Homo sapiens: one gene and its partner. The gene in region 2 interacts genetically with the main gene of each other region. Each region holds a gene or a part of one and is shown on either strand. Other genes may lie near its edges.

Region 1 (3,833 bases), on a different chromosome or scaffold from region 2:
GATTTTAGAGCCCTGCTGGCGGAAATGCTTTTATGAAATCCAGCAACAGCAGCCAATGCAGAATAAACACAATGAAGATTTTGACCGTTAGAGCTTGCACTGAAGAGAAGACAGGAGCTTGCTCTTCTAATACACCTTGGCCTCCACAGAGCTAGCCTGCTCATTTCTATCTTATTCGTTAGGAATGTAGGCACAATAATCTGTTTTGTTAGTGCTTTATTTTTCTGAGCTAACTCTTCAGTCTTCTGTAAGGAGTTTCTTCAGTATTTGAAAAGTGCAGAATCTCTGGGTCATTGGCTGTTCTTTAATACTAGTTTAGATTCCAAAAGATTATATGCTATCCCTTGAAACTAAGATTTATTTTCTTCTTCTTTTTGGTGTAATGTAAGATACTATAGGTAGCATTATAGACTTTATTCAATTTTTACCAGGTATTTATATATGTATATGAGGAAGGGTTTGGTTGCCCAAATGTTGCTCTATTGCAAATTCCTTGAGAGCAGAGGTCATGATATATCTTGAGGTTTTTTTAGTGGCTAAAATACAGAGACACTTTAATCAATAATCATGATATCAATGCTTAATGTGACAGGCTTATTCAGAGATCTCACACAACAGAGAAATTCCCTGAGAATATTACCGCATTTAATGTAAATTTAACATTTTAGAGACCATTATTAGCAGGTATATTTGCTCGATTGCTGTAAAATTGTGATTTTCTTCATCTCTAACATGATCACACATTTTTCACATTAATCTGAAACTCTAGTAGGAGACTTTGTTAATACAGATTGTGCTTTTATTTCTATTCTAATCATATCCTGAAAGTAGTTGTATGTTATGTATTCACTTATGAGAGTTTGTTGAACTTTCCTTTGAATATTGCCTTTAATCTTCATGAGACCTCTGTTATATAGCCAAAATATTCCTGAATTCTAGAAACAAAATGCCTCTCTTTTGTAATATTCTCAAAATGGCACTTTTGAAGATCTTTGCTTGTGACCCAGTCTTTATAGAATTTGGTTTTTCTTATGGATTATTTGGTGCTGCACTCTAAGAAATATTGTGCCTTTATGCCAAAGAGACCACAGATTATGATAAAAGAATATTCAACAGATGCTTTTATCTGAATTCCACTATTTATATTTTTCTCCTGGAAGGACACAATGATGTTTTAGTAAAATGGGCATTTCTGAATTTATCATGTCATTTAAAAAGTGAGCTATGTTTGGGAATCATTTGAGAGAAAAATTGTTTAGTATATAATTCAACATTCTCCATTTTTGGTCTTCATACTCACACATATTATATTTATATATAAGTTATGCCTGGGCAATGAATGCAGGAAAAACTGAGATTTGACTTGGAAGAGAGAGTGTCTCATACACATCATCCACCCCCTGTCCCCCTTCTGTTTATTTACATGAAGTTTTATTTTAAAACAAAGTCTCACTTCCCATTTGGGTAATCTCATTTGCTATTTTCTTTGGGTAATAGAAACATTTTTTCTGCTTAAGCTTGAATATTGACTGACTAAAGTAAATCTGAATTTCTAACTTTTAAAACTATTCAAAAGATATAAAAGAAAAAGCTCCAATGTGATTCATAAAATAGAGAAAAAGGTGAAGTGTTCAATTCACATGCTGCTGCAAAATTTGTTGAAACCTATTTATTTTAGAGTTCATTATAATATCTTTTCAATATTTCTAGGAAAAAAAACATGTCATTCTCTAGGACAGGGTCACAGAGTGAGTGGACTTTCTCTGTAAAGGACAAGAGAGTAAATATTTTCAATTTTTCAAGCTAGCTGTATGGTCTCAACTCTGCTATTATAGGTTGAAATCAGCCATAGGCAATACTTCATGAATGGGTAATACTTCATGAATGGGCATTTTTAACTTATAGATAAAGAAAACTTTATCTATAAGAAAGGCTTGCAGCCAGACGCAGTGGCTCACACCTGTAATCCTAACACTTTGGGAGGCCGAGGCGGGCGGATCACAAGATCAGGAGTTCAAGACCAGCCTGGCCAACATGGTGAAACCCCATCTCTACTAAAAATATGAAAATTAGTTGGGCATGATGGCGCGCTCCTGTAATCCCAGCTACTCAGGAGGCTGAGGCTGGAGAATCACTTGAACCCAGGAGGCGGAGGTTGCAGTGAGCCAAGATTGTGCCACTGCACTCCAGCCTGGGCCACAGAGTGAGACTCCATCTTGAAAAAAATAAAAAAAGAAAGGCTTGCAGTTTGGGTTGACACACATGGTCTTCAGGATTTTCCAACTTCTCTTCTAGGAGGTAGGCATCTAATGAACAACATGGGATAAACAGAAAGCAGAAAGGTAAATTGTGTAGGAAAGGAGTCCTGGGATTTATTTCCATCTCCTCATTAAGGGTAGAACCTTGGATACCTCTCCGCATTTTCTTGCCAAGCAAAACATTATCTTTTTAAGAATTCTATCTTTTAAGAATTCTATCATATTCATAAAGATTATAATTTACAGAAAACCCTTTAGTCTTCTTTTATGGTCACAATAGAGGCATACTCAAACAGAGGATTATTTTTCAATGCCATTTTCATCTTTGTTATAAATTTATTAAAAGAGAAATATGAAATAGTGTTAATGATCAATATACTTTTGGGACCCCTTCTATAGAATGGGTACAGTATTGATAAAGATGGTAATCAACAGAGAGTAAGAAATCTAGACTTACAACAGTATGTTTCTCCGCACCCCCATGTTTCTGGTTAAGAGTGAATAAGAACCAATTCTTTGAAAAATCCTAAAATCAGTCTATTCTAATTACAGGTCAAACGCAGAACTTTAAAGACGCCTTTTCAGGAAGAGATTCAAGTATTACGCGGTTGCCACTGGCTTTTTATTATGGAATGTATGCATATGCTGGCTGGTAAGTTGATAGCTCCAGATCTGGTGGTTTGCGTAGTTCATTAATCCCATTATGCACTCAGATTAAGTGCCAAGCAAGGTGCCAGGCAAATGTGAATAGCCATAATCCAGTGTGATAGGCTTTACTTGAAATGAGAAATAAGGTATTATCCCCTCCACCAGGCCAATTACTTTGCACATGACAACTAAACATAACAGGTTTCCAGTCAAGGTGACTGCTAGATTTAGCCTGATGTCATAAAAAACAAACAAATGCTGGGTCTTAAGATCCAATAAAAATTACTTATAAGTATGTACCAGTAAGGACATAATAGTGCCGTAAGGTACTAAAGAATAATACTTCGCTTGTCAAAAGGCCTTTCAGCTAAAGCTCCAAGGGTGTTTACAAATAGTGATTAATTGATTTTTTTTTCCAGCTTCTCGTGAGAGAAGTAACTCAGATGTAGAAATAAGTATGACATTCCCAGAAGGTAAATGGTAATCTAAAGGCAGAGAAAGAGAAACCAAGATAATGCAGTCAACTCTTCTAGACAGTCTATTACATTTAAAAGGACCTTACATGTTCCTTAAAATGTCCCCAACATCTGAAAATTTAAAAAAGTGAAGATGATTAAAATCATGATGCCACAGATATATTTCCTTTGATGTATGTCCACCTGTGATACCTACCTTTCTAGTTAAGGCATTAAAACTTTGTATTTGTACCTTATTTGTTCAGATACTTGAAAAACAGTAATCATGTAATCATGGATAAGAGTGGGACTTTCTCTTCAGTAAATTTTATTGACCTTGTAAGATTTAGTTGAGATGATGGTTGCAAGAAAGCCTACAAGGTATTATTTAATTATCAAAATCATTGTAGTAAGATTAAATTTCATTGTTTTGGGATAAATCATGGCAATGTTTATTTTTTAATTATCTATA
Region 2 (3,436 bases):
TATTGGTCATTCTAGGTCAACTGCATTTACCCTCTCAATGAATGTTTCAGGACTATCAACACATGCATGTCATGAGGAGATTGCTGGATTATGCAAAACACACTGCCCAAGCTCCAGAATATAGTTATTTTCTTAGAGTTTAGGAGGCCAAGAGTGACACAGAGGAAGGTCCTAGGTACAGGATGCTAGAACTCCAGAATGTCTGACTGAAAATTCAAAGGGTATCAAGCTGGTGAGACATCCAACTTCATTGAGTTGGGGGCATCTGGCAGGTAGGGATGGGAAGGCATTTGCTTAAGTGTGTCAAGTTCCAGGTATGATGAGATTAGATGCAGCTCCTCTGCTCCTACTTAAGTCAAACACTTCCATGTTGCACCTTGTCCCTGGTTGTCTAGTGGGAGTAAGTGGCAGAACAGCAGAGTTAAGAAACTCAAACTCTTTCTCTTTGGATGGGAAAGCCACTGGGGACTGAATCCTTCTGGGACTATAGGATTATGTTTCCAATGGGAGACCCCACAAGTAGAAAAGAGCACTTCTCCCTTCCTCCCCCAAGGCCAAGAAAAGCAAAGAAGATGTCTATAATGAAGAACATCTATACATATACCCGGAGTTTTTCCTTTTATTTACAAAGCAGTAAACCAAATTCCTGTGTGAACATAAATATCCAATATAATATAATATTGCGTATGCCATTTCCCCCCTCAAATATGACTTCAATTTTGGCCAGTTGTTCTGACTTAAGCCAAAAATTAGTTTCATCTATATGAACATATGATGGTAAGTAACCTATTTATTACCTTAAAATGTTTCCCCACATAAAGGAAATGGTAGAGAGTAAGGGGAAAAGAGAAATAAGAGATGTGATAAAACCTATTCCACCATCTTTATCTTCATCCACAGCATGTCCTAGACATTCAGTGCCTGGGCCAGTCTCTATAGTAAACTTGGGCTGATCTGGAAACGTCTCCACTTAGCTCTGTAAGGATGGCACCCTTCAGGGTGCTTCAGAGGAAACTTACTGAATTCAACCCAAGTGTCCTGAAAGAAATTGAAGAAGTTACTCAAAGAGCTGAACTTTAAAACAAGGAGTAGCTGAGGGTGAGGCATATCCTATCTTGAGTTTCTGAGCACTCTGGTACCATGGAATGTCTGTACACTGACCTTCGCCAAAGCCAAGAAAGCCCTGGTAGGAGTCACAGCAGCCATGGGTGAGCTGAAAGGCTTTTCCTGACTTCCTGGGGTCTCAGGAATAGCCAGAGGTGAAAAGATTTGCCTTTTTTACTACATAATTGCACAAACCATGGTATCTATTTTCTGATCCAGATTTCCAAAGGCTTTTCTGAAAACTACAAGATATACCCCTTGTGGACTGTGTGAAAATAAATTTATCTTTATGTATTTGAACAGTAGCCATAGATGTGCCTCTTCTCTACAGATTTTTCTGTCACACACATACACATATAAACACACACATACACACACAGAGTCTGTGTGGTGGGCCAAACATGCCAAAAATAAATACTCTCACTTCTCTAAATTATTTATAGAACTCATCTGATTTTTAAAATATGTTAATAAATAATCTAAATGGGGGAGGGAGTTGAAGTGTTTTTTTTTTTTTTTTACTTATGTTGATGGATAGCCACAAAGCATAATCATCTTATTTACAAAAAACAAATGCCCCAAAACCTAAAAAAGCCCCCCCAGCAACCAAACATCTTCTGTAAATATAGTTTTTAAATGATGAGTAAGGTACTGTGCCATTGGCCCCCATTTGGTTATGTGCATCATGTTAGTCAGCAGTAGCCATTCCACGAATTCCTCATGGGTAGTGCAACCAGTTAAAAAGTGTATAAAACATTATACATAGAAAAACTCTCACATCCTTTGGATGTTTGCAGTTCATCATAACTTTGTGGTTACCTTTCCGCAACATAAATTTAAAAAAAAAATCACACACACACATACACTCACACAGACCCATATATAGAAACCCATTCATCCAGTCATACACCATCCAGAGTGTAGTGCATGGGACTGAATTCCATGAGGCACGAAGGGGGTGATCCCATCCTCAGGGTAGTCCATCATCTTCAAGGCTTAATGCCACTCGCTGGGGAGACAAACCAAAGAATTCATCATTAGATCCATAAGAGTTACTATTTATTTAGTATTGACAAATCACAGACTTACGTTACTTTAACAGGTATTAGCTCACATAATGTTCAAACTATCCTAAGAGACAGGATTTATCCTATTTATTTTACAGATGAGAAACAAAACTCAATGAGCTTAAGTAGGGTTTGTTCTGGATCACATAGCAAGTGGCTGAACTAAAATTTGATCCCAGGTCTGTATGAATCCAAAGCTGTAGATTTTTTCATCATTCTGTTTTGTATCTTTGTAAAGAAGAGTTGCACAGATCTAAATTTTCTTAATCCTCCCTTATAGGATTTTAGGTTTGGTCAATTTCAGTGGGTTAGCTTTGGCAAATGTTAAATTTCAGGCTATGGGGTTACTTGTCTCTAGCATGCTAATCACATTTAGAAAGGTAATATACTGCACCTTCCCAACAGATTAAACACAGTTGGGAGGCAATGCAGGTTAATTAAATTCCATCCCTCTCTCCCTCACCCCTGCTTTCCAGTCATTAGGTAGATGCTAGACTCCTGTCTGCCAAAAATGGCTGACCATGGGAAGGTGAGCCCACTAACCCCTGAACCAGTCTATTCCATTGTGGACAACAGATTTAAATTCTTTCCTATATTAATGTGAAATTTGTTTGTTTATATCTTCTGACATTCCCTGATTCCATCTCAGACTCAGAGACAGTTCTACATAGGACAACCCTTGAAATTTATAGATGGTGTTTGAATTCCCTTCCGTTCATTCTGAGTGTTTTCTTCTCCAGGGTACACATCTAACTTTCCCCAGCTAGTCCTGATGTAATCTTGTTTGCCTCTTTTCCATTTCCCAGATACCCTCCTTTGGAAAGACCCTCCCCAGCTTCAGTACTTTTCCTCATAGTTATGTGAATTTGGGCCAGCCACTTTACTTCTCTGAGACTTAGTTTTATCATCTATCAAATGGGAATAGTAACAGGACCTACCTCACAGGGTTGTTGAGGAATCAAATGAGATAATGCACAGAGAGTGTTTAACATAGTACCTAACAACACATAGGGCCCAGAATATCCTAGGTCAACGTAACCAACATAAAATAGAATCAGACTAGTATCTCCCATCTCTGGACATTCTACATATGATAAAAAGTAACTCTACTGCCTTTCAAGTCATCTTTGGGTTATCTGTAGTTTTTTTATGAATGCAATGGCCATCCTCCACCAGTGTAGATATTTAAGACTATCTTATTCTAGTCTAGCTACCCTCCCACTCTCTCTAAGACAGATCTCTAGGCCAAAGATAGGCCCCAGTAG

The links.
Region 1: changes in LRP8 (region 2) and SLC7A11 are lethal when combined (synthetic lethality), as found in Homo sapiens cells (one study listed by BioGRID).

Annotation. Positions count from the first base shown.
Region 1 is NC_000004.12:138,218,343-138,222,175, reverse strand, and holds part of SLC7A11 (cystine/glutamate transporter), read left to right. Parts: intron 1-2,810; coding exon 2,811-2,910; intron 2,911-3,833. UniProt on the Homo sapiens protein: Heterodimer with SLC3A2, that functions as an antiporter by mediating the exchange of extracellular anionic L-cystine and intracellular L-glutamate across the cellular plasma membrane.
Region 2 is NC_000001.11:53,244,944-53,248,379, forward strand, and holds part of LRP8 (low-density lipoprotein receptor-related protein 8 isoform 1 precursor), read right to left. Parts: intron 2,114-3,436; coding exon 2,075-2,113; 3' UTR 1-2,074. UniProt on the Homo sapiens protein: Cell surface receptor for Reelin (RELN) and apolipoprotein E (apoE)-containing ligands. LRP8 participates in transmitting the extracellular Reelin signal to intracellular signaling processes, by binding to DAB1 on its cytoplasmic tail.